Homo sapiens: one gene and its partner. The protein of the gene in region 1 interacts with the protein of each later gene in a pairwise test. Each region holds a gene or a part of one and is shown in the gene's direction. Other genes may lie near its edges.

What was found.
Region 2: the proteins of PLAC9 (region 1) and CCDC14 interact in a two-hybrid assay, tested with the Homo sapiens proteins (one large-scale study listed by BioGRID and IntAct).

Annotation. Positions count from the first base shown.
Region 1 is NC_000010.11:80,135,535-80,139,359, forward strand, and holds part of PLAC9 (placenta-specific protein 9 isoform 1 precursor), read left to right. Parts: intron 1-3,825.
Region 2 is NC_000003.12:123,944,215-123,948,039, reverse strand, and holds part of CCDC14 (coiled-coil domain-containing protein 14), read left to right. Parts: intron 1-720; coding exon 721-1,237; intron 1,238-3,049; coding exon 3,050-3,191; intron 3,192-3,825. UniProt on the Homo sapiens protein: Negatively regulates centriole duplication. Negatively regulates CEP63 and CDK2 centrosomal localization.

The DNA of each region.
Region 1 (3,825 bases):
CACCATGTTGGCTAGGCTGGTCTCAAACTCCTGACATCAAGTGATCAGCCTGCCCCGGCCTCCCAAAGTGCTGGGATTACAGGCATGAGCCACCGCGCTGGGCCCAAGTCTTGGTTTCTTTTAGCAGCACTCAGAGAAACCTTTATCCCTGATGGCTTTTTAGACCATGAGCCACCACGCCCGGCCCATATTTTGGAGTTTTTTATAAAATCACTTGAAGAATAGTTTTCTGCTGCTTTCAAAAATGATCAAAACCCGTGGATGGTTTTGAGTGAATCATACATTTTAATACAAATATTGGATGTGGTAAATTTATTATTCTATTATGTTGAATGTGGTCAAATATAATTAACCCCCAAGTGGCCAGGGTTGCTTTTCAAAGCAGAGTGTGACTTTGACAATTCAGAAGATACAGCGGCACCTTTCAGATGCCACTGAGAAAACATTTCTCAACCCCCAGCATGCAGAAATCATCTGTGTTGTGGCCCTTTCTTACTGTTTGGGTCCAGATACAAAAGGTCTCCCCATAAGGCCTGTAAGTAGAAGCACCCGTACTTCCGCCTCAGAGGATGGGACCCAGGGGCCACGTCTCTTTAACTGGGGCAGCCAGCCCAGCCGAGCCCTCCTCTGGGGCCTCCGGGCTCCACAGCAGCGTGTTCTCACCAGCACAGGATGCCCCACCCATGGCCACCATCCAGGGTGCACATCAGGCCCCTAGCAGGAGCCGGGCCAGAGAAAACAACGCAGCATCCAAGGAGGTCCATTTCCCAACTGGCAGGGCCTGGGAGAGCGGGAGGAAAGGAAGGAAGGGAGCCCTGAGGAGCCACAGCCTTGGCTGCTCAGGGTTAATCATCATAATCCTTCAGTCTTTTCCACTCCCCTTGTCTGAGCCACTGACAGCCCTGTGGTGCATGTGCGTGTCTACTATTTTTTATTCATTTATTTATTTTCTTACAAGACACAGTCTTTCACTGTCACCCTGGCTGCAGTGCAGTGGTGCAATCGTAGCTGACTGTAGTCTCAAACTCCTGGGCTCAAGCGATTCTCCCGCCTCAGCTTTCCAAATACCTGAGACTACAAGTATATACCACCAATCCTGGCTAATTTTTTTTTAATTTTTATTTTATTTATTTATTTATTTATTTATTTATTTATTTTTGTAGAGACAGAGTCTCACTATGTTGCCCAGAGTGACCTCAAACTTCTGGCTTCAAGCGATCCTCTTGCCTCAGCCTCCTAAAGCTCTGGGATTACAGGTGTGAACCACCGAGCCCAGCTCGTCTAGCTAATTCTTGAGGCCTCTCTGCAGCCTCCAAAAGACAGAAGAATTAAGGATGCGCTACACGGGGGAGTCAGGGCCTCAGGCCTACCCTACCCCATTTTATGTAAGAGGCAGCAGAGGCTCAGGGAGCAGAAGAAACTTTCTCACAATCCCACAATCATTAGTGGCTGAACCAGGCTGAGAAAAGGGGTCTCCAGCATGTTTTCTACCATGATGCGTTCAAGTCAGCGCTGTGGTGAGGATGCTGGCAGTACAATGTCAGGCCCTGCTCCAAGCTTGCTCTCTCAGATGCACTCTGTGGAGGCCCCGATGAGCTCACGGACAGTTGCTCCAGGGTGCACAAAGCACAGTTTTGTCCAGATGTGAAGGATTAGTGCTGAGCCATGTTGGGAGCGACCTCAGCCCAGCCTTTTCCCTGGAGGGGTTTTGGAGCCAAGTTAGACCTCATCACAGACACGTAGAGAACAGGGTGGTTTAGGCCAGTGGAGGGGAGCAGGCTCTGGTTGTTCTGACTTCCAAAGCAGCCAGACTCCCATTTGGCTGGCAGGGTCACACTGCATCCCCCTGGCCTGAGCCTTACACGGGAGAGTGGCTAGGGTCTGGGAGAGGGCAGGTGAGCCTCAGAGAAAAGGCTTGGCCAAAGGCCTCTGGACAGAGCCAGCAGGGGGGTATGTGTATCCACAGACTCATGACAACAGGCCCTCCCCTAGGACGGCCACTCTGTGGGTGACAACAGAGGCCCCCTCAGAGCTTTTCCTCTCCAAGCTGAGCAGCCCAGTTTCAGCTGAGAGAATTGAGTTAAAATTTGGAGTCCCAGACTGGGTGCGGTTGTTCACTCCTATAATCCCAGCACTTTGGGAGGCCGAGACAGGCGGATCACTTAAGCCCAGGGGTTTGAGCTTAGCCTGGGCAACGTAGTGAAATCCTATCTCTACAAAAAATACAAAACGTAGCCAGGCATGGTAGTGTGTGCCTGTAGTCCCAGCTACTCTGGAGGCTGAGGTGGGAGAATTGCTTGAACCCGGGAAGAAGAGGTTGCAGTGAGCCATGATTGTGCCACTGCACTTCAGCCTGGGTGACAGAGTGAGACCCTGTCTAAAAAAAAAAAAAAAAAAGAGGAGTCCCTTCCCATAGCCTCCTCTAGACCTGCTCCTGCCTCTCAAGGGCCTTCTCAGGATGTGGGGCCAGGATGGAGCATAGCCCCCAGGGGCCTCTCTCTCTCTGAATATTTTACATGAATGCCTGCAGCCCACAATGGCTGCTGCTTTCTGCTGACAACCTCGTCAGACAGCCAGCTTTTGTTATGGAACATTTCAAATCGTGCACACAACAGTAGACAGAATCGCTGAATGCACCCCCATTTGCTCATCACCCAGCTTCAACAATCAGCAACTCTCAGCCCATCCTGTTTGCTCTAAACATCCACGCATGCCTCTCCACCATCCCCACTGAGGCCTGGATTATTTACTTTGGAAGTAAATCCAAGACAGCACAGCCTTTCATCTGTAAATATTTCAGTATAGGTCTTTAAAATACTTGCATTAAAAAAATAACCAAAGGGCCATTATAATGTCCTCCTCCCTCCCCAGATTCAGCAATAACACCATTATCTTTTGAAGAGTATTTTCTAAGTTCAGTGGAGGGAAATAATGAAAAGGATAATTTGGAAAACAGATTGTTCTCCACAAAAGATGCTCAGAGTGGAAGGACATTTTGTCTCTGGTCCTGTTCTCATCTCTGAGTGGAAGTGCTGAGAGCTAGATAGAGTTGGAATCAGAAAATCACAGGGCAGGGGGTCCCCACCTTGCTGAGATGAGAACAGGAGGTCAGGGTGCCTGAGGTCCAGGCATTTGCAGATGGTGTGACCTTGGGGAAATCACTCAGCCTCTCAGAGTTACACATCCATCATCAGCTCTGTCCTACCTCAAGACCTGCCCCACTTCTAGACAACTGCAGATGGCCCCTTGGCCAACCCATCCAATACCAAGGCCTTACAGCTACAAGCATTGCACGTAGAGAGATCAAGTTCCATAACTCCCCCTATTGAGCTTTGGATGCCCGCATCCATGGCCACAGCCTTAATATTGTCACTCTCTGAAGCTGCTCGACCTCTAAAAGTTAAATTGCAATATTCCTTTTTTTTTTTTTTTTTTGAGACGGAGTCTAGCTCTGTCACCCAGGCTGGAGTGCAGTGGCGCGATCTCCACTCACTGCAAGCTCTGCCTCCCGGGTTCACGCCATTCTCCTGCCTCAGCCTCCCTAGTAGCTGGGACTACAGGTGCCCACCGCCACGCCCGGCTAATTTTTTTGTATTTTTAGTAGAGACGGGGTTTCACCGTGTTAGCCAGGATGGTCTCGATCTCCTGACCTCATGATCTGCCCGCCTCGGCCTCCCAAAGTGCTGGGATTACAGGCGTGAGCCACCGCGCCTGGCTAAAATTGCAACATTCTTTACCTCTTGTTCCTCCTGTGATTCCTAAGACCTCCAGTCTCTTCAGCCCCCATTTCTCCCAATTCATTGGCCCTCTTCTTGGCCTCATTTC
Region 2 (3,825 bases), on another chromosome or scaffold:
CCTTTTAAAATAAAGTTATAAGTCAACAATACAGTCTTATATACTGCTGCTTTCACTTAATACTTTATTAAAAACATGTTTATTAATATATACCCTTTGAATTTTTAATAACTTGTTAATACTGTATTTTTTGGATATACCATAGTCTGTGTAACTACTATATGGTTAGGAGTAGTAACCATATATTTGAGTTTCTTATAATTAATATTATTATTAATAAGCAAGTTTTTAATATCAGAAACTTACTAATATTTTTAGCTTAAAAGTAAGTTGGATTTTTTTCCTCAGTGCAATAAAGATTCTTGTTTTTTAAAGCTTAATTTACCCTGTAATATGGGAGCATTACAAGGCCATGACTAAAATAGACTGTTTACAAATACCACAGATGGTTTAAAAGCATCAAAAATTAGTCCACTTTGGGAAATTACATCATAAGAAAATAAGTTTAAACATACAAAAAGTTTTTGCACAAACATATTTACAGAAATGTTTCAGCAGTGAAAAACTGGCTGTTACTTAAATGTCTAACTGTATGGGAGTAGTTACACAGACTATAGTATATCCTCAAAATATAGTGGTAACTACTTATTAAATATTCACAAAATGAATATATTAATAAACATGTTTTAATAAATATATTTCATATATTTGAGTTTGTTGTAATTAATACCTACAAATGAGTGCTCATACTTCTGAAGACTTGTTTTTATCTTTCTTTAGGAAGTTCAAACTGATGGCAACAGTCAGTTTGCATCACAAGGTAAAACAGTTTCTGCAACCTGTACTGATGTTCTACGGAATTCATTTAATACCAGTCCTGGAGTTCCATGTAGCCTGCCCAAAACTGACATATCAGCTATTCCAACATTGCAGCAACTGGGCCTTGTTAATGGAATTCTGCCACAACAAGGAATTCATAAGGAAACAGACCTACTAAAATGTATTCAAACATATTTGTCTCTTTTTCGATCTCATGGAAAAGAAACGCATCTGGACAGTCAGACACACCGAAGCCCTACTCAGTCACAACCAGCTTTCTTGGCCACTAATGAAGAAAAATGTGCCAGAGAGCAAATTAGAGAGGCCACAAGTGAAAGAAAGGATTTAAACATACATGTGCGAGATACAAAAACAGTGAAGGATGTACAGAAGGCAAAAAATGTGAACAAGACAGCTGAAAAAGTTAGAATTATAAAATATTTGTTGGGAGAGCTCAAGGCCCTGGTAGCAGAACAAGGTAGATGGGACTTATAACTTTCTGTAGTATGGTGTTATACTAAATAGCAATGTCATGTTATTTAGCTATCATTTAAATGGAGTTTGTGGTATTTTCCATAGAACTGTGTTTTGAGCTAATAAGAAAATGAGTTCTACTTATTGTATTATTTTTTAAGTTTTGATCCCTTCTTTCCTGTGGATTTAAAATGCGTTTGAGAATGTCAAACATTCAGTCTTTTGCTTGCAAGTGTGTATTTATTCTGCTTGATAATAGACCTTGAAAAGAGTCAACCAAAGAGAATTTGGACAGATAAAAATTTTAATTAGAGAATGCCTATAAATGATTAACTCCCTGAGTAGACTGATTATTCTTCCTGTTTTAAAAAGATGCAGAGAATTCTTTCCTGTCACTTCTTTAATAGCCAACTGTTAGATTGTTTAACAAATCTCACTTTGAGAAGTAACGCATACCTTCTTATGCCCTTTTCAGTGTATTTTTAGGACTTTTTTTCTTAAATCAAGGTGTTTCTGAGCCAGATTCTATTCATTTGTTTCCATTCTGTATATGTATTCTATAGTAATGGCTTTTGCTTGAAATGAGTTACAGTTTTGTCATCTTGGAAACACAGTAATTGATTTTGGAAGCATTGATTGAATACCTAACGTTTGCAGACCAAAAAAAAAAAAAATCTTAAAATGCTATATAAATGTAGCACCATTAGACCAAAGATTTAGTATATTAAAATTGCTCTGTTTTCAGACCTTCAACTTATTACCATTTTCACAGTCAGATACATAATCATGGTAATAATAATAATACCATTAGCTGTCATTTATTGAACACTTACCATGTGTCCAGCACAGTGCTAAGTGTTTTATATGCATTATCTCATTTAATCCTCCCAGCAGCCCTATGTGGTACTGTTACCACTCCCATTTTACTGATGAGGAAACTGAGACTCCGTCTCAAAATAAATAAATAAATAAAGATTGGTAGAAGACTGCTTGATCATTGAACACAGTTGTTTACTGTGTACATATACTTTTCATGAGGATGTTAAAATATCTGTGAAACTGAATACATTTTTGTAACTTAGAATACACTTTCAACTTCTAGGTTATCAGATGATTAATAAATAATTTTAAGTACTTTCAGCCCGTAGTAAATATGAATGGGAATGAGGGGACAAAGATAAAAGGCAAAAGAATTAATATCTACCTTCTATGCCTGTGTCTGTTTGCAATCTCCAAAAACATCTACTGTCCACAATTATTAACAAACTTTTGATGTCACATCAAATGAGATGTGGCTGCTTGTGTTCAATCTACTTTAGAAAATTAAGTAATGAAACTATCTTAGCAGACCCTCACTCAATATTTTGCCATATTAACCCCCTAAAGTAAATTGTTTGCTTATGCCAGGATCAAAGGTTGTATTATAAATGTTAATACTATAACCAGTTATAGGAAACCCTATAGCAATCATAGGAGTCCACTGTGGTCCTTTGTAACTATGGACTAAGAGTTTTGTGTAAGCCACATTCCTACTTGACTCTTGAACTGAAAAAAAAAAAATCACTTATGTAATAATCCTGTGATTTAAGATTAATCTTTAGTTTACTGAACTTAATTTCTTTAGAATTCTGAGGAAACAAATACCAGCAGCATGAAAGAGAAAAATGGAACCTGTATAATAAATTTATAAATAATTGAGTTGAATTTATAACAAGAATGTACATATCTATAAAGATTTTCTTTTTTAGTAATACATACTAATAATCTTGTCCAAAAATATAATATTGATTTTACTCATTTCTGTTGCCTTCTATAGAGGATTCAGAAATTCAGAGGTTGATTACAGAAATGGAGGCATGTATATCTGTACTTCCAACAGTAAGTGGAAACACAGATATTCAAGTTGAGATAGCACTGGCCATGCAACCATTAAGAAGTGAGAATGCTCAGTTACGAAGGTAAGAATTGCTCTTTGAATATTTTTGTCTGTATGCAAAGATGTCTCCTGGCCAGAACAAAGGTGCAAATGACATACCTAGGACTTCATAAGTAAAATTTATTTGCTGTCTTACTGTATTTCTACTTTTCTTCCTCATTTTTCAGAGATTTCCAGCATTCTCTAACTCTTCCTTCTGCCCACTTGTATGTATTTTCTCCCACTTATTTTACCCCTGTTGTCACTTGGTAGTGTGTAGGCAGAAAAATGAAGTACCTCTGTATATTTATCAGACTAGTCTAAGTTATGCTGCAGAAACGAACTTCTAAATCTCATTTGCATAGCACAGCAAGTTTCTTTCTCCCTCATGCCAAGACTAACATGGATCATTGGTGGCTCTTTCATCATGTGACTCAGGATCCAGACTGCCTCCATTTTATGAAGCCACTGTCTCAGTATGTGTTGTCTAGGAAAAAGAGAATGTGGATGTGGTAATGGGGGAGTCTTACATGGCTCAACCCAGAAGTGATCGTTTCGCTACCACTTATATTTTATAGGCTGAAACAAGGCACATGGCCCTGCCTAATAGAAAGGTCTGGGACATTATGTTAAAAGCAAACTGTTTTTCTTCTGCTCTCACACCACAGCAATCGACA